4 linked regions of the Homo sapiens genome follow. The protein of the gene in region 2 purifies or fractionates together with the protein of the main gene of each other region. This does not show direct contact. Each region holds a gene or a part of one and is shown on either strand. Other genes may lie near its edges.

Region 1 (4,625 bases), on a different chromosome or scaffold from region 2:
AAAACTACTGCATAAGTAAAATTAAAAAGCAGATTGCTTCTCCTGATCTTTTTTGTATTTCAAATGGAACAAAACTTTTCTTGTAACTGTAATTTGTAAAGTTTAGATATCAGTTTACAGATGGGGGAGGGGAGAAGGAAGGAAATATGGGTGAATAATATGTGTATGTACATACATATGTGAGTCTGAGGCCCAAGGATAGAATACTGTCTCCAACCTTAGCCAGCTGTGGCCATATACTTGTAGGGAAGTTTCCATGCTTCTTCAGCTGCTTTTCTGAATTACCAAATCACTCCTGACAACACATATTCTGCCACATGAAGACGAACTAGAATCAATCTGATAAATCTGAGATTTATCAATCAAATACATCATAATTTGCCAATCATAGTAAAATGAAAATAGTTTTGCCTAAAAAAAAAAAAAAAAAAAAAAAAACCCAAACCATATATTTATGATGTCTGGTACCTGCACCCAAGATTTTTCACTTTGAGTAAAATTGGTAAGACTGGCTTGTGTGTATTTGCCTTAGCAAATAGAAAATTTGCTAAAAATTTATTTTTCCAGTGCAAATATGAACTTAAGACATCTTTTCAGCACATCTTAGAAAAGGAAATTCACATGAGTTCATGGGCTTAGATAATCTTTTATTACTCAAATGACTGGGAATTATGAGAGGTTATAGCTGTGTTTTTAAATAATTGTATTTTGGAATAATTTTAAATTTATAGAAAAGTTGGAAATACAGAACTGAGTAATCTCATACCCTTCATCCAGCTTCCCCTAATGTTAGGATAATGATGATACATTTGTCCAAATTAAGACATGAACATTGGTATGACATTACTAACCAGACTTTGTTTGCGTTTCACCAGCTTTTCCACTAATGTCCATTTTCTCTTCTGGGATCCAGTCCAGGATTCCACATTGCATATATATTGTTGTGTTTAAACAAGTGGAAATATACACATACAGATGAACTTTATGCCAGTTTAGCTTGGTATTTTGAGATTAAAAGGGCCTTGAAAAGCCAATCAACTGTGCTGAAGATTGCTTTTAATATTTGGATTTTGAATTTGGAATTTGTCATAAAAGAGGATCCTAGCCAAGGGTGTTTGGTTACCCACAGTACATTGCTGAAGAAGTCTAGTCATAAAGCAGTCTCGTATATAATGTCGTACAACATGGACTCTGAAAGATGGTTTTATAGCAACGCTCCTTTGTACTTAAGTTGTGGCTAATTTTAGTAGTAAACCAGGAAATAGAAAAAAGTAGACCTTTGTGCAAGTATTAACTTTGACCAGTTTGCATTTATGTGAACTTGTGGATTATTAATTTACTTCATTTTTACTTTAGTGGAATAAAATAAGTGACTTTTATTTTTATTTTTATTTTTTTGAGACAGAGTCTCACTCTGTCGCCCAGACTGGAGTGCAGTGGCGCGATCTCGGCTCACTGCAGGCTCTGCTTCCTGGGTTCACAGCATTCTCCTGCCTCAGCCTCCCGAGTAACTGGGACGACAGGCGTGTGCCACCATGCCCGGCTAATTTTTTTTTTTTGTATTTTTAGTGGAGACAGGGTTTCACCGTGTTAGCCAGGATGGTCTCGATCTCCTGACCTCATGATCTGCCCACCTTGGCCTCCCAAAGTGCTGGGATTACAGGCGTAAGCCACTGCGCCTGGCCTAAAATAAGTGACTATTATGAAAGTGATTGCTTGATCTTTGGTTTAGGTTGTAAATTTAGTGTTCCTTAATTTGGCACATAAATGTTGAGCTAAAAAATAAGTAATAGCTTACTTCAAAAAAGTTATTTTGCCATTATTTAAAATAAGACCTGTGCTGTCATTGTAACTAATTCATTGGGTAGGGTAATTCTATTTGAAGTCTGAGTTCTTTTAGTGCTCTTTGAAGATTTTAAGAAACTTGAATATTTGCCTAAGTTCTTAATTTGTTTCCACCTCAGCTTCACACCTGTTCTTGTTTCCAGTTATACTCCTTCCTTTCCTATTTCTGGCTTTCGTAAAGGCATTCGTGGGAACTAAGTTAATAATCATTTCCAAATGCTATGCAATAGGTGGTGTGAATTTTTTCTTTTTCCGTTTCCACCGGTATATTTGTATGTAGAGAGACTTAGAGTGCCTTAGTTACAACTTTTTACTGTACTAATGCCAACATTCATGTTAGATGGTGTTTTGTTTGTTTTTTGAGAAAGGCTCGCTTTGTCTCCCAGGCTGGAATGGAGGTGTGTGATTACAACTCACTGCAGCCTCAACCACTGGGGCTCAGTTGATCCTCCCACCTCAGCCTCCCTAGTAGCTGAGACTACAGGCACGTGCCACCACGCCTGGCTAATTTTTGTATTTTTTGTAGAGATGGGGCTTCGCCATGTTGCCTAGGCTGGTCTTGAACTCCTAGACTCAAAGGATCCACCTGCCTAGGTTTTGTTTGTTAATTGTCCGGTAAGAAAGGTACTGAGAGAAACACTGGTGGATTTTTAATTTGGTTTGTAAACTTACGTAGACATAGGTTATGTAGAGGATTATCTTGCTTCTAAACCAAATACTAGTTCTCGTCTTGGTTGCCTGTTTTAATTTTTTTTATTTTTATTTTTATTTTTTTGAGACTGAGTCTCGCCCTGTCACTCAGGCTGGAGTGCGGTGGCGGAATCTCGGCTCACTGCAATCTCCGCCTTCCAGGCCCAAGCCATTCTTCCGCCTCAGCCCCCAGAGTAGCTGGGACTACAGCCCCAGAGTCCCAGAGTAGCTGGGACTACAGATGTACACCATGCCCGGCTAATTTTTGTCTTTTTAGTAGAGGCGGGGTTTCATCATGTTGGTCAGACGGGTCTCAAACTCCTGACCTCAAGTGATCTGCCCGCCTCAGCCTCCCACAGTGCTAGGATTACAGGCGTGAGCCACCGGCCCTGTCACGGTTGTACGTTTTTAAATCTCCTTTTATTCTTTTGTTTCTGTAGTGTTTCCAGTAGTCTAACATCAAACATTTTTCAAACTTTTTTTTTTTTTTGGTCTCAGATGATTTTCTAATTTATTCCTCTCCCATTTGGTATTTAGTGTACTTTATCTCTTTTAGTGGTATATTGCTGATGAAATTTCTTTTACAAAGAAATTTGATTGTGCTTTGCAAGGCTTTGTAGTTTTGAAATATTTGGAGCTGATTCATTGTGGAATTGTGGAAATAAATAGGCTTAAAATTGGTTTAGACTTTTTCATAGAAGGCTCTTAATACCTCAAAATTTGTTTTGATCCATTCTGTCATTGTGTTTGCAATGATTTTAAAGTAAAATAACTTTTCATTCAGTAAATATATATTGATCTTACTGAGTGCCAGGAATTGTGCTAGGCTAATTTTAATGGATGTTTTTCAAATCTATTCTCATAATCTTAGCACTCACAATGATCTTGGGATTGCACAGTGCTCAATAGTTTATAAAATTTAATATTTTTCTTCTGATTCTTATGCCCCTGCAAGGTAATGTTTTTCCGGTTGTTGACATGAGAAAATTGAGTTGCTGTAACTCACACAATTCCACAGTGTAGCCAGAACTAGAACTCAGTTCTGAGCTTTTTTTTTTTTCTTGTGTAATATATTGTCGAGTGTAGTTTTGGCATAAATCATCTAGTAGTTTTCTGATTCAATGTGTTTTTTCCATTCCATTTAGAAAATAGGGTATTCAGCAAATTTTTTTAAAACTGCAAATTTATTAAATTAAAAAAGTTCCTTTTCTTGCTTGATTCTTTTCCTTAAATTACCTGTTGCTTTTTTTTTTTTTCCCCCATCGTTGTGCTTCACAGGTATTTTAATAATGCTTTTCATTTCAGGCTTATTCAGAAAAGTTCGGAATACATCACTTTGCTCTAGGTTTAGAGATTTTCCTTCAATTAATGGCCTGAATTGCTGAGAAAAATGGCACTACAGTTTATTTTTATCTAGCTTCTGGAGAGGGGATGACTTGGGCAATATTTACTCAGATTTGTCATTTGCGTTAGCTGTATTTATTTTCAAGGAATTTCTTGACTAGAAAGCTGTTCAGTGATGGTTGAATATCTGCCTTTATTACTATTTTGTAAAAAAAAAAAAAAAACACTTTAGGTGCTGTAAATTTGACTTTGTTTTTTTTAAAGAAAGGAAAAGGGACAAAATGCCAGTATCATAAAATTAATTTGTGTCTGAGTTACTATATTCTTTGATAAAAGTTCAATACCTGTAAATTTTATGCTGGTCAGAAAAAATTTCAGTGGATCCTCCAGGTGAGCAATAACCTTAAGAAGATAAAGGTTAGATTTTAGACACACTTTAGTGTAGATTTTAGTATATAGATTTAAATATTTGTAGTTTACTTAAAATGCCAAGAGACCGAAATGAAACATTTGTCACTGTAATGTTAGGAAAGGTGACTTAACATTGTAATTTCTATACCAGATTGAAGTTGCAGAGTGACATGTGACTTTAATGTCTGATGCTTCATTTTAAAATTGTTTAGTAAATATAATTTAAGTGTATTTAAGACAGATCGCTATTTTATAGTTCAGGCCTAGAGATTTGTATTGGGTTCCACAATTTCTCAGCCTTTAGTCTCCTCCCTTTCTTTCAGTCTCCTTCATTG
Region 2 (6,399 bases):
GCGTTAGTTCGGGTTAGGGCTTCCCCGCCAGCACCCCCACCTTGTGTCCTGGACTTTCAGGATCCCTAGTGGGGATGTGTATCCCAGAGGCAAATTCACTCTGTCACACTCAGGGGACTCGCAGCCCTTCGACTGACTCAGTGTAGGCTGCAGTCTCCTGCTTCCTTCAAAACATCAATAGATTCCTATGGTTTTCCTGTTCAGTTATTGCGTTGCTTCTCGAAAAATAGTTCACAACGTGAATCTGTACACACTATTTTGTCCTTCCAAGTGGAAGAGGTATGCTAGCAGTTCCTCTAATCCACCATTTTGGAAAAGCATTCCTAATTTTTCAAGGATAGAAACATTTTTATGGCCTGGTCATCCTAAATAGCACAAAACGTCTTTGTCCATTGCAAACTATAACATACTCAATATTTCAACTTAAATATTTTCAATATGACTTTCACTTCATTGTTTTCAACATCAAACCACGAGTGTTCATTAGTAGGTTCCCAAGTTAGACAATCCAATAGAAAAATGGACGAACGTCTTGAAGGGTCATATCACAAATAAGGATATCTAAATGGCCAATAAACATCTGAAAAGGTGCTCAGCTTCATTAGTCATCCATGCAACACAAATCAAACCCCATATGTCATCACTATATTCTCCCTAGAATATCTTTTTAAAGGCATAAAATACTAGATGTGGACAAGAATGTAAAGCAACAAGAATGCTCACACATTGTGGATGAGAGTATAAATTGGTACAACCAATTTGGAAAACAATCAGATGCTATGTATTTACTAAAACTGAATGTATGCATAGCCTGTGCCCTAGGAATTTCTCTCCTAGGTATATAACCCCCACAGAAATCCCTGCACCACAACCCTATTTATAAAAGTGAAAACTGGAAACTACAAATAAGACCATCTTCACTTACAATATTCAAATAAATTGTAATATCTTTCCCAATGTATTACAGTATGCCATTGAGAAGGATAAACTACAATTACATGAAACAGATTAATAAACTTCACAAAAGTAATGTAGTGGGGAAGACGCCAGACACAAAGGAATACCTACAATTCCATTTATATAAAGTTCAAAAATAGATGTCAGCGCCTTCCTATTAAAAGTCAGGCTAGGAATTATTTTGTGTGGAGTAGTGACTGGTAGTGCCTGGGATGTTGTAACATTCTTTTGTGGGGGCAGGATGCTGGTTACACAGGTGTGTTAAATTTGTGCAGTTCATGAGGATGTTTACTCATGATTTGTACATTTTTTAATTGTATGTTATACTTCAAAAAGTTCTTAAGAGACTTTTAAGAAGCGACAAATTAATAAAAAGAAAAATACTCAATACAAGGAATTAGAGTATTTCTGTAAGAGAGACAATAAAGAGAAATACAGCAGACACAGGAACACTGATAGGCTAAAGCCATTGTTTTAATCGAATGGTGCAACTGAGAGGGATCTGGGTTCCCAGAGGAAATCAGCAACAGCTTTCAGGTACTCACAACTATTTCCCAGTCAGTATAGGTAAATATTTTGGGTTTACACAGCACAAATGTATAGTATCACACAAAATACGATATTGTTCGTTTTTTAGACATTTTGGCCGGCAAGTACCTTGCAGTCGCCAACATGAAGCAAAGATTTTTTGTATGTAGACATTGGGTCCACTTCTACCTGCCAAGAGAAACAAAGGTTAATGCACAGTTAGTGTCCTGAAGTGTCATGTTGTCATGGATAAAATTAGACCTCAGACCATAGTTTTCACTTTTTAATAATGAATTAGACGCGATCAAAGATACTCAAGACATTTTATAGCTGGATGCCCCTTTTCAGTTGCTCTTACCTTGTTTTCCAGGGGCCCTATTATAAGCCATTATATGAATCCACAATTAGTTACATGAATTACTGATCAACTGTGTGGAGTTAACAGGACCCAGCATATTCAGCTTGAGACTATTGGCTTCAGAAAGAATATTCAGACATCGAAGTCATCCCAGGAGCCTGCAGAGGTCCCATACCAGGAGGCATGCAGGGTCTGGAATAGCTACCTGAGGCAGTTTGTGATTATCAAAGTGTCAGCATAAAGAAAGAAGGATCACTGAAGTGGAATTTTAGAAGCCTGCACTTCTACCCCTGTATTCCCCAAAAACATTCTGCATGACTTTTTGTCAAGTGCTTAATCACAAGGTACTTAAGAAGTACCCATTCTCCCATGGGTACTTTGCACCCATGGGAGAATGAGTGTGAAATGGTTTGAAATACCTGAGACAAATATGGAAATTTATTGCTAGTAATTTTTCTACACCTTAAGAACTGGGAGCCTCTGGAAACCAGAGGGTGGAGGAGGGGTAATAGGAAGGCAGTTTAAGAGGGTAAGGGTGGCCCTGAGTTGCCCCTACTGTATCACCTGCTCTTGCATGCTAAGTCTTATCAGTTTCTCCACCCAGGTGCCCCCATGAGTCCATGGATTGAACCTTTGTGGTGTGAAAATAATCAATGTGGTATGGTCAAGGGCCGTTAGCAGGCAAACTTGCCCACCATGTGCTCCCTAGACCTCAGGCACTTTTCTGGGGACAAAGGAGTCCAGTAGAGACACACTGCAAAGTGTCGGAGGTCCCACCATGCAGGACATCAGCCATCATCTCAACATGGTCCTCATTCGTATCTGTCTTCGTTTTATTTATTTTTTTTAATTTTTATTTTTGAGATGAAGTTTCACGCTTGTTGCCCAGGCTGGAGTGCAATGGCACCATCTCAGCTCACTGCAATCTCCGCCTCCTGGGTTCAAGTGATCCTCTTTTCTCAGCTTCCCGAGTAGCTGGGACAGGCATGCGCCACCATGCCCGGCTAATTTTGTATTTTTAGTAGAGACGGGTTTTCACCATGTTGGCTAGACTGATCTCGAACTCCTGACCTCAGGTGATCCACTCGACTCAGCCTCCCAAAGTGCTTAGATTGCAGGCGTGAGCCACCGCGCCCAGCCTCATATCTGTCTTTTAAACACTTCACACTTGGTCCTTGAGTGATACGCTTTATATATGAAGGTTTGAGGCAAAGGGTAGGGGCTCTCTGCTGACCCCAGAAAACCACAAGCAAAACAGTTTTGAGAACCTCCACTTTAGTGACTGAAGTAGACTCTTCTCATTATCACCAAGTTGCTGGCTTCTGTCCACAGAATGTAAATTCTGACCTCTCAAACTGATGTTTCATAGGACCTCATCATGCTATAAGTTAGTGTAATACATCTTAACCAGCTGTGTCTGTGGATTCTGCTCAGCATAAAATTTACCTTGGCTTCTAAATGAGTGAAAAATAACATGGGTGGCTGACTGTAGAAGGCAAGTTCTAAGAGCCCTCAAAGAACAGTCTCCTTCTCATCCCCAAGTCCTCGCTATTCTTTGAAAGTCTCATCTTTTTGCTCTGCCCTACTTCTGCCAGTACCAACAGTCCAGCCTTCCCCTCAAACTTCACCAGCTCCTCAAACCAAAATCCATAACCAGTTTCTTTTCTGAAGAGAGCTACCTCCTGTTCTGTGTCCTTTGGATCTTTTCTCCATTCTCTGGACCAGCCCAGCATGTCCATCTCTGCTCACTTTCCTCCCTGTTGCAGCTTCCTTTGTCCAAGTCCTGCCTTTTTCTCACTCTTGTAGAACCTCACACCTTTTTTCCCTTTACTATTCCTAATTCTACAAGGTGGGGACTCCATTTTACCTGGTGGAACATAGAAGAGTAAGTTAAGGACCACGAGGGCCAAGAGGACGCTCCTTGTGGCCATACCAATCAGCAAAGAAGCAGCTGTGACTCATCGGAGAGTCACTCTCTCCGCAGCTTTGAAGAGACGGGGAGCTGCATGGCTAGTGAACCTTTTGGAACAAGAACATCTGCCTGCTCCACTGAGCAATCCAATCAGCAAAATGTCTGTTTGAACATGACATCCCTTCATTAAAGCACACTTCCTGGGTGCCACATGCATGCTAGCAACTGCATGAACACTGTGTAGGCAGCCCTATTCTAGGCCCTGGTAGGGTGCTGTGTAGGTGTCTGTGTATCTTCATTGTACATCCACTAAAATGCCTATAGTGTGCAGAGAACCATAAGGCTGCCTTACATAGTTGACAAAGAGTTTGTTTTTTTTTTCAACCTTACACACACACGAAGTCCAGGTAGGCATGATTCTCTCCATTTTAAAAACAAAAATAAAGAGTCTCAGGTAGAAGAAATGACTTTCTCAAGCTCACATAGATCCTAAATGGTAGCAACATGATTTATAAGCAGGCTTCCCTGACTCCTATATACAGAAGTACTAAAGTATGGCCTTGCCCAGTTCTGGTATAGCTGTAATGTCTTTAGGAAAATAAGAGCTCCTCAAAAACAGCATGGAAAAAGCAAGTCCCCATAACACCCGCAACATGACCCAGGGAAAAACACTGAGTCTATGGCTCCCCATTGAGCATATGCTGTGTGCCGGGTAATGGGGGGGCATACAAAGAATTTATGACAAAAGTCTTGCTTGGAGGGACTAAAGTCGACAGTGTTTGACAGTTTTTGAAGTGTTTTAAGTTTTTCAGCAACTTTATCTGATACTGTATGAAGAACACAAAACCCAGAATCAGAAAGTCTTTCTGGTCTGGACTCTGCATGCAGTAGCTTGACAAGCTTTTAATAAAGCACGTACTTTACCTCACTGACCATCAGTTTTCTCACTTGGAAAGAAGGTTGTACACCTGGCCAGGTGCAGTTGCTCATGCCTATAATTCTAACGTTTTGGGAGGCTGAGGAAGGTGGATTGCTTGAGCTCAGCAGCTCAAGACCAGCCTGGGCAACATGGCAAAACCCCATCTCTACAAAAAATGCAAAAATTAGCCAGGCATGATAGTGAGCGCCTGTACTCCTAGCTACTCAGGAGGCTGAGGTGGGAGAATCACCTGAACCCAGGAGATCAAGGCTGCAGTGAGCCATGATTGCACCACTGCACTCCAGCCTGGGTGACACAGTGAGACTCTGTCTTAAACAACAACAACAACAAAAAATAGGTTGTACTCCATCATTCCCACCTATCAGGAAGGCTTGTCGCAAGGCCAAATGAAGTAACTCTTAAGGCCAGTCCTTTATAGAACATATAGAACATATATTTAAGGAACTATTAGACTCATGTAACAGAAGAAGACATTTAAAACTATAGATATTGGCCAGGTGTGGTGGCATGTGCCTGTAATCGCAGCACTTTGGGAGGCCGAGATGAGAAGATCGCTTGAGGCCAGGCATTCAAGATCATCATGGGCAACATAGTGAGACCCCTTTCTCTATTTAAAGAAATAAAACTAGACATGTTGCTTCTCCAGCTAGAGAGTGAAATAGCCAGGACTAGGAACACATGCTTCCCTCTCTCTGTCCCTGTTTTATTCACAAGAATGCATCAAATGTATGCCACTTCAATGGACTCTTGTTTTCCAACTTCAGGATGTTTGCGATGTGGTTGAGATTGCACATCTGTGAAAGACTCATAAAGAACTGCAGAGCAGAAAATCAGTAAATAGAGAAAGAATAGAGGACCTGAGTTTTGAGGAGCACAAAGAGAAAAGATTAAGCAAGCACAAATGCATTAAGGGACTCTCCTGAGACCCACTTTCCAACCTGCAGCATTAGGCACAGCCTGATTTGCACTCTCTCAGCTGCCATGGTCCTGATCTTCTGTTCTCCAAGAAACTCCCTCTGTCTCCATCTCAACCCTTCCCACTGTGCCGTCCAGAACCACAGTTCTACTATAAACATACCTTCTACTTTATGTCTTCCCCAAGAACACTCTTCCATCTCTGTGTCTTGGCAAAATGCTAGGTCCTTCTCTAAGGACACTGCTTCCTGGCAGCCTTGGTGACTGGAAGCTGTTCATTGACCCAGGCTCCACACACCAGAGGACAAGTAAGCCCCACTTCACAATCTCCTGAACGATACCTGAGATGATCCTGACACCGCCTTTCCCTCACCCTGTCCACATTGAATTGCTCGTCAAACGTTCCCAGTTCTGCCTTCAGCATGCGTTTCACACTCGCCCATTTCCATCTCCACTGCTGCCACTGCGTCCATGCCATCACCTCTGTCACCAAACTCAGTAAATGGCCTCTTAAATGGCTCCCATATCATTTTTAGATATTTACCATTTATTCTCCACTTGGTAACCAAAATGACCTTTTATAAAACTGAAATTGATTTATGCATTTGCCCTGTGGAAAATCCTTCAGGATGGCTTCCCCCTGGCCCCACTCTTCACAGGTCAGGACTATTACAATTCAAGGTGAGTTTTAGGTAGGGACATAGCCAAACCATATCAGCATCCTCTCCAAGTATTTGCTTCTTAAGATGATGTTCTTGTTCTGTATCACATCACAATCTTCCTGGATTG
Region 3 (4,625 bases), on a different chromosome or scaffold from region 2:
AAGGGATGTCCTATTGATTGCAAGAATAAAACAAGAGACGATAGGTGGTACCTTGATCTTACCTAAAGAAGAAACATATTCTTTTGACTAAAATGAGGTCATGTTTCAACAATACCTGTCTTTGGTCTGAAGGCTAAGCCAGTCAGGACAATGAGGTGTATGCAACTCAGGAAGAGATGTCTGACTGTTAATAAGAATGTATTGTGAGATGAAATGTAATGTCGGTATCTTAGCAAGGCAACATGATCTATCTTCTTCAAGAAGTTTTTTTTTTTTTTTGGTTATTTTTCTCTTAACAAAGTTGGAAGAAATTGTATATGAAAAGGTACTTTCTCAACTTCTGTAAAGGATATAGTTATAATATTATTCATGTTTAAATGGAAACTTTTAAATACACAAGCTTATATCTGAGAAACTTTTATATACGAGCTTATATTTGAGAAAAATAAGATTAAACAAATGGATCTGTGGTACAAATGTATTAATCAAAATTAATTTTCTTTCTTTTCTAAAGGTAAAGACACCTTTGAAAAGCGTTACGTATTTACAACTATTCTGCAATATTTAAGAAGAAATCCCAAATGTAGACAATACATCATTATTAAACAAATATGAGTAGAGTTATTGAACAACAGAAAAACATGTTTTTTTTAATTTTAATTTTAGATTTGGGGGTACATGTGAAGGTTTGTTACATAGGTAAACATGTGTAACAAGGGTTTGTTGATCATATTATCTTACCACCCAGGTGTTAAGCCCAGTGCCCAATAGTTATCCTTTCTGCTCCTCTTCTTCCTCCCACCCTCCCCCTTGAGTAGACCCCAATCATGTTGAGACATGATTATTTCCAAAATGAACATTACTCTTTTCCACTAAGGATACTTACAAATTTGAAGTAATAGGGAATAAGATCAACAAATGGGTATACTCATTTATTTATTCATGCCATTGCATTTTTAAAAATCATAATTGGGTACCTAATTGTAGACTAAAACTAAGTTAATGTGACTGCATATGAAAATTATTATAGTCATATTTAAAAGAGCATTTAATCCTGTTGTCCAATTTATGAATGATTTCCACTATATATATTCTTTATTGAGAGAAAATCTTTGAAATCACATTTTGGAATATATTTAAGTTTTTTTTAATGTTTCACAAAATGGAGAAATACAAATTCAGTTAAAAAGTAAAGACAAAAAGAAAAATAATAAATTTCCACTTTCAATATAGTAAATTCTCTTTGAGTACAAATGAATTCAGAATACTTATTTATTTTCTAATAGTGTTTTAAACTTGTATAATACCCCATTATATAAATATGTAGTTACTACCAAAAATATTTCATTTGCCTAGTATGAGAGACACAACAGCAAAAGCACATATGATTTGCTCTGCAAACTAGAAATATGTTGCATAATTCTTTCAGGGAAATATGTTGTTGTTATTGTTTCTTCATAGAATCTCAATTTAGGCTTTTCCTGCAAGACCAGTCTTACTTTTTTTTTTTACAGGATGTATGGCTATTATTTAATAGTTTTGATTTCCATTTAGTTACTAGTCAGTTTCATCAATTGGTTTAGTCAGGGAGCTCAGTCAAAATATGTGGGCTTGTATAGAGATAGCCTAAATAGAAAGGATGGAGAGAAAGAGAGATGGAGAGAGTGAGACTGACTCTACATTTTAATATCACTCAATTTAGAACAGAGCAATACATAATACATACTTTCTAACTTGGCCTTGTAATTATGCCAGGGGAAAAAGGGAGGCCATCTGATCATTTATGAAGAGGAAAATATAGATTTAAAATTGTGAGGGCAGATTATAGAAGACAAACAGAAAAAAAACAGCATATACATTTGGAAGATGTAAGCTTACTTGTTGTGCTGAATGGCAGAATCTCCTGAATCCTTCATTCTCCTTTCTCTAAAATAGAGGGTTCATATGTACTTGGTGAGATTGACATGTTATTCAAATGAGAGAGGACTGAAGAGCCAGAACAGAGATTCAATACTATTGCAAGTATAATACTTTTCAAAATTGAGTGAGTGAGGTAAAGACACTCATTCTGTGCCAGTGGAACTCACATATGGAAATTAGTCCAAAAACCAACTTTTAAAAACTCAAATTATTTTTAGAGATATTTTCATTTTTTGTCTTATTTACTGTTTAAATAATATTTTATCCCAAAAAACTAATAAGTTTTAAAAATCTCCATCCAAAATAAAATAACTGGAGAATGTTCCCAAGGCCTATAGACTATACAATTTGTGATTGCTCTGTTGCAATTTCATTTCTATGTCTCTAGACAATGGTTTGTGACACAGGTTAAATTTGGGAATAGCTATCCATGTGAAAATGTATAGCAACTCCACAGAAGAAAATAAAAAGCATCCCTTGACATTTTTCTGTTTGATTAGCTAATTTTCCCTACTCTCCCCCCTCCTCTGCCAAAACCAAAAGAAAAACCTTCTTATTTGACCTTTCTATGCATCAAGATAGTTTTGGTCATTATTCTTGGATTATATGGGGGAAGCCAGGTTTCTTGAAGAAATTTAAGAAAAGTTTTAAAACTATCTAAGGTAGACATAGATATTTTCTCATAGGAGTTTGGCTGAGCATATATTCTGATTAATTCATAATGGAACTCAGTCTTTGGCTTTATTTTCTTTAGCATTCTGCTACTAAATGTATTGCTTCAAATTATAAGCATTGGGTATACCATAATTATATTCATTTCAAAAGCAGATAATTTTGACACGTGTTTCTGCCACACAGTCAGATTCTGTTAAAACAAAATACTTGTTATATCGAAATGTATTAGAATATTATATGCTATGAGTCAAAAAATAACTTAAAATTTTTTTCATTTCACTTTTTTTTTTGTCCAGATAAATAGACATGTTTATCTGGAGTTTTCAAAAGCAAAAGTTTCATTCATAAAAACCATCACCAATTTTCAAGCCAGAGTGGTATTTTTAATGGCGTTTGTGCCAAGGAAAGCCATTTTAAAGCAGATATACAGACACACATAAACACACACAGAGAGAGATTAAAAACGGGGTTGGGGGCAATTGTATAGTTGGGTTCCACTTACTACTAACTTAGTTTGACGAATGATATCATGTTGGCACAGGCATGTTTAACTTTTAGGATTAATTCTACTTTCTTTGAATGCATCTATCTAGAATGAAGACAAGTGTTTCCTTTGTACAAGAATTGTTTTGACAGACAGCCACAGAAGATAGAGAAATCTATCAGTATGTTTGATTGGTACTTTTTACTACACAGAATTCCTATAACCAGGAAAATGCTGAAGGAAAGGGAGGGAGAGTTGCACATTTCACATTAAGATACAAAAATTAATGGCAGAAACATAAAAAACTGGATCCATATATAGAATGGAGAAAAGACATAAAGTTCCCTCAACATCATAATCCTTGTAGAAGACCAAGTCCTGTTCAGTTCAGGTGACTTTAAATGGAGCTGATTTTTATGGTATCCCCTGGGCTGAGAAAAGAAATTGACAAGGTAACTGGCAAGAAACTAATGTCCTGGATCCAATAGATTTGCAAACTAAGTATTTCTGCATACCTCCACCTTGAAAAACAAGCAGCATTTAGAAAGTGTCATCTAAGTCCTAAGAATACATTAACCATATCACTCATCTAGCACCCTTTCTAAGAAAATTTCCTTTACCTTCACTTACATTTTTAAAAAATCACTTCCATATTTGTAATTCTAGCACAGTTAATATTTAATTTTTCTGCAATATTCTCATGTCTCTCTCCATTCTTAGAGGTCTAATTATATTCAGATTCACACTGGTGGCACTTTCCTTAAATTATTTTTATACTGTAAATATTTTCATATAATGTTTTTAATAATGAGATAAAAACATTTTAAGAAATTATTTTGTCTAAAGATATTTTAACCTATTCAAGAAATACTGATTCAGATTCTGATGTATGGCAGAATCCATCCATCCATCCATCCATCCATCCATCCATCCATTCATCTTTTTCCTAAATTTATCTTCAGCTTTCTCTTAACTCCATTTTTCCTCCTGAATTCTGTTTTCTGCAATTCACATTCTTTCTTATTGTTTTAGCACATTTAAATTCTTTCTTTACCTTTTCCATTTTCTCTTTTCTCTCTCACTCAGTTTAAATTTGAGCTTGAGAAGAGAGAAAGAGAACAAATTCAAAGATTAGCAACCTCTTCAAAACAAAACTTTAATGTTATTTGTGGCATATGAAGAGACATAAATCGCAGTTCATTCTTCTTTGAGGGGAGATTAAAATTTTGATATACATTTAATTGCCATTGTTTGATGGTTTTCTATACAGATACATTAAAATGACTATAACAGCATGAACTTTAATTATTTGGAAATGTGTCTCCACATTGTATCATACTCGAGAATTTAACACAGACTAGCATTAGGCCTCTCAATCCCTTTTCAGAAAATTTGACACTTTAAGATATACTTCCTTTTAAGTTTTAATCCTTATCAAGCAATACTTTGATATGATATGACATTGTTATATGACAAATTAGTTGATTCTAAGTGAATCTGATTTATCTTCCAATTTTGGCTGTTAAGAGTTACAAAGATGTTTCCT
Region 4 (4,625 bases), about 82 Mb from region 2:
GATAAATAACAAAGTTTCTGCACTGTTTATAAGATTATGAGAATCAAAATGAAATAACTGAAAAATAAGTATATTGAAGTACTTCAAAGTACCAAACTACTGTGAGATGATGGTGTTGATTTTCATCAGTGTATTCAAGGTACACATCATAAAATATTATAGTGGGAAAGTCACTAAGATTTTAGAGATCTCACACTGGAAAAGAAAGAGAAATTTAAGTGGCGAGGTACTATCCTAACGTAGGATCATAATGAGATTATCCTAGGAAGAGGGAGGTGTTGAAAATTAATCTGGGTAAACCTAGAACAAAAGCCACTGAAAGAAATGAGGACAGGGGAGTCCTAAACATTAACAATCATCTGGCAAGCTCTTCCTGAAACACCAATTTCAGCTCACTGGTATTTACTTAGCTATTCGCAACCCATTCTAATTCAGCAGGTCTAGAGTGGGACCTATAATGTGCATTTTGACCTAACTCCTCACACTCTTCTGTTATAGTTTTCCCCCTTGGCTATTCACTTTTACTGGTCTATGCCAATCTACACATACACCTAAAATAACCCGACCAACTGTTCCAATTCAGTTGTCCTTATTGTTTTCATCTACTAATGACTGGCAAACACTTCCATTATGATATTTTCCCATAAATAATATCATTAGACATTTGTTTACCTCAGTGATATTTGAGTAGCAACTCGAATTACTCTTGGCTGAGTTCCTAAGTCATTTTCTCGTCCACTTACTGCATCCACTAAGAAAATGCGCCGAGTTAGAAGCCACTTTCCAGAGTTGCTGTCTTTTATTATAAAAAGAAAAAAGTTTACTGCACAAATTTAAAACATGAAATTATTGTTTTAGATAAGATGGCTGCAAAAAGCTACTAGTATAAGAAACACCTGACAATGGCGTTCTCTAACTCATGTGAATGTCTTCTTTTGTTTTTTTTAGACAGGGTCTCACTCTGTTGACCAGGCTATAGTGCAATAGCATGATCATGGCTCACTGCATGCATTCTCAACCTCCTGGGCTCAAGTGATCCTCCCACCTCAGCCTCCAGAGTAGCTGGGACTACAAGGGTGCACCATCACACCAAGCTAAATTTTTTTTTGTAGCAACCAGTTCTAATTATGTTGCCTAGGTTGGTCTTCAATTTCTAGGCTCAAGCAATTCTCTCGTCTTGGCCTCCCAAAGTGCTGCGATTATAGGCGTGAGCCACCGTGCCTTGGACTTGAATGTCTTCTGATTGAACTTTTCATAAATTTGGAAGGCTTTCCCCTGCAAATTACCTGAAAAAGCAGAATTTTATAACATGAATAACAACAAAAGAAACTAATTTGTCCAAAAAAGCATATTCGGGACAGCTTGACGAAAAAGCCCCAATTTACGGTTCTACTAATGTTTCTCAGGATATACCCTCAGCAACAGTATAATTTCTTAACAATATGTCTGGCAATAAAATTAGCAACAGTTTCTAAGTCCACCAGCAATTTATTGTTTCATTTTTTGGCACACTGTATAGAACCACATAAGAGAGAATTCATGACCTTTCTTATAATCAGTGGTTTATTAAATTATCATGTAGGTTAACTTATTTGTTGATTTCTGCTCAGGGAAAAGAGTGGTATGTATGGATGTCTTACCTTGGTTCACAAATATCTTATTATGTTGAAGATTTAGGTTTAACACAGGCACAGCCAAAATATATTGATGTTGATTTTCATCAGTATATTCAAGGTACACATCATAAAATATAGGAGTGGGAAAGTCAATTAAGATCTTAGAGATAGGAATCTCACACTGAAAAGTAAAATTAAAAATAAAAGCACATAAAACAGCAACTTAAAGTACTAAAAAGTAAAAAATAAAATAAAAGATCACAATTGAAAATTAGCAAGCATATTTATTATCTTCAGAGTGTTTTTCTAGTTTTGCAAAATGTCTTTATACTACCTTGTTTATATGCATTTTCATTTGTCTTCCAAAACATGAATACTATGATTATTTTATAAGGACCAAAACCACTAACAGTAAAGTACTGCTTTGAGAATTTTGAGAACTTCTTGAGCTTCAACTCAGATGAAGGAGGTATACCTTCATTCTCAATATTAAGGGTACATCAGTGAAAAGGTTTAAAACTACTGTCCTACGGGATAAATTCCCAATTTTTTCTCCTGCTGTACAATGATGTATATGATCTGGCTTCCATTAACCAAGCCAGGCTTATCTCTCATTACTCCCTATCAGTCTATGGTGGTCCATTCATACTAATCTACTTGTAGTTTCTAAATATGCCATACTACTGTATGTCTCTCTGTCATTACAAATGTGATTTCTGTCTGATATTTCCTTCCCCACTGTGTTCTTCTGGAAAACTCATATTCATTATACAAATCCAAGTATCACTTACTTTGTGAAGCCTTTCTATACTTCCCCAGGAATCAGTACCTTGTACATACCTATAGAATGACACTTATCACATTCTTTGCAATTCTTTGTCTATATAACTGTTTTGCCCACTAGTCTATGAAGGACTTGAGAGTTAGCCAGGTTCAAAGAAATAAAAATGCTTTTTAAACCTGATGATAGAACATTGGCTCCACAGTTTATGTGACACAAGTCTTTGAGTAAATTACCTAATTACACGGCATAATTTCCTCATCTGTGAAGCACAGATACTATGTATCTCATATAGTTATTTTATGAATCAAATGGGATAATAACGATAAAATGCTGAGCACACAGATAGGCATTACATAAGTGTTGATCTTTCTGGCCTATGTTAGAAGCACAATAACATTTATTTTAACAACAACAGCAACAACAACGTGTAAATCATTTCTGACAAAAGAAGTAAATTCATGTTCATGGTAGAAAATTTGGAAATTATAAAAAAGAAAAAAATAATTTCTAACCCCACTATCCAGAGGTAACCACTGTTAGTAGATTCTTCCAATCTACTTTCCATAATGGTATTTTTTGTTATGGTTTTGTTCTATGGTTGTGCGTGGAACTTTATCAAGATGTACTTTTACAGACTAATGAATTGATATGGTTTGGCTGTGTCCCCACCCAAATCTCATCTTGAACTGTAGTTCCCATAATCCCCATGTGTCATGGGAAGGACCCGGAGGGAGGTAATTGAATCATAGGGGCAGTTACCCTCATGCTGTTCTCATGATAGTGAGTGAGTTCTCATGAGATTGATGGTTTTATGAGGGGCTTCTCCCCCTTTTGCTCAGTACTTCTCTTCCTGTCACCACGTGAAAAAGGACATGTTTGCTTCCCTTCCACCATGATTGTAAGTTTCCTGAGGCCTCCTCAGCCATAGTGAACTGTGAGTCAATTAAACCTATTTCCTTTGTAAATTACCCAGTCTCGGATGTGTTTTTATTAGCAGCGTGAGAACGGACTAATACATGCATGTTTTTCAAGTATTGAATGGCTCATAATATTCCTTAGTAAAATAATGTAATTTCAAAATAGGTATCAAAGTAAGGAAAGTCAGAGAAGGAAGGAGAAAGAAAAGAATGGAAGAAGATGAAGGAATTATTTTTATTTGTTATGAGCGGGTAGAAGAAGGGAGTAACTTTTTATTAGTCATTTAAAAAAAGTAGTATTTTTACTTTATTTCAAAATGCTCAGAAGTAAGCATTACTTTTTAAGACCTATAAGCCTAGAAGCAGATAAACAATTTATTATGAAGATGTAATATTATATGATGTTTAAGACTCTAGGCCGGACGAGGTGGCTCACACCTGTAATCCCAGCACTTTGGGAGGCCAAGGCTGGTGGATCAGTTGAGGTCAGGAGTTTGAGACAAGCGTGGTCAACACAGCAAAACCCCATCTCTATGCAAAACACAAGAATTAGCTGGGTGTGGTGGTACATGCCTGTTGTCCCAGCTACTCAGGTGGTTGAGGCACGAGAATTGCTTGAACCCAGGAGGCAAGAGATTGCAGTGAGCTGAGATTGCACCACTGCACTCCAGCCTGGGCAACAGAGCGAGACTCTGTCTCAAAAAACAAAAAACTCTATAGATAACAAGGTGCTCTGTTTATGCCACTTAAATTAAGCTTTTATGTACCCAGGTAATAAAAAATTATATTAAATAGTGAAATTATTCTTCACTATTAAAAACATTTCCGGCCAGGCACGGTGGCTCATGCCTGTAATCTCAGCACTTCGGGAGGCTGAGGAGGGCAGATCATCTGAGGTGGGGAGTTCAAGATCAGCCTGATCAACATGGAGAAACCCTGTCTTTACTAAAAATACAAAAAATTAGCTGGGCGTGGTGGCACATGTCTGTAATTCCAGCTACTCGGGAGGCTGAGGCAGGAGAATCACTTGAACCTGGGAGGCGGAGGTTGTGGTGAACTGAGATTGCACCACTGCACTCCAGCCTGGGCAACAAGAGCAAAACTCCATCTCAAAAAAAAAAAAAAAAAAACCAAGAATAAAAAATTTCCAATCTCAAAAATTTAAGTATTATTCCAATTACTGCTGACATGATATTTTGAAAAATAAAGCTAAAATATAGACTAATATCGTTCAAACTTACATTTTGTTGGTAGGTTGTTCCAAATGAATAAGCAGCATTTAGCCTTGTCTCTGTGTCTGGACAAAGC

What was found.
Region 1: the proteins of DEFB135 (region 2) and SP3 purify together in Homo sapiens (affinity purification with mass spectrometry; one large-scale study listed by BioGRID and IntAct). This does not show direct contact.
Region 3: the proteins of DEFB135 (region 2) and LRP1B purify together in Homo sapiens (affinity purification with mass spectrometry; one large-scale study listed by BioGRID and IntAct). This does not show direct contact.
Region 4: the proteins of DEFB135 (region 2) and TMEM67 purify together in Homo sapiens (affinity purification with mass spectrometry; one large-scale study listed by BioGRID and IntAct). This does not show direct contact.

Annotation. Positions count from the first base shown.
Region 1 is NC_000002.12:173,957,749-173,962,373, reverse strand, and holds part of SP3 (transcription factor Sp3), read left to right. Parts: intron 1-4,625. UniProt on the Homo sapiens protein: Transcriptional factor that can act as an activator or repressor depending on isoform and/or post-translational modifications. Binds to GT and GC boxes promoter elements. Competes with SP1 for the GC-box promoters.
Region 2 is NC_000008.11:11,979,696-11,986,094, reverse strand, and holds DEFB135 (beta-defensin 135 precursor), read right to left. Parts: upstream 3,840-6,399; 5' UTR 3,775-3,839; coding exon 3,711-3,774; intron 1,675-3,710; coding exon 1,505-1,674; downstream 1-1,504. UniProt on the Homo sapiens protein: Has antibacterial activity.
Region 3 is NC_000002.12:142,123,392-142,128,016, forward strand, and holds part of LRP1B (low-density lipoprotein receptor-related protein 1B precursor), read right to left. Parts: intron 1-4,625. UniProt on the Homo sapiens protein: Potential cell surface proteins that bind and internalize ligands in the process of receptor-mediated endocytosis.
Region 4 is NC_000008.11:93,782,394-93,787,018, reverse strand, and holds part of TMEM67 (meckelin isoform 1 precursor), read right to left. Parts: intron 4,625-4,625; coding exon 4,559-4,624; intron 1,798-4,558; coding exon 1,641-1,797; intron 797-1,640; coding exon 673-796; intron 1-672. UniProt on the Homo sapiens protein: Required for ciliary structure and function. Part of the tectonic-like complex which is required for tissue-specific ciliogenesis and may regulate ciliary membrane composition.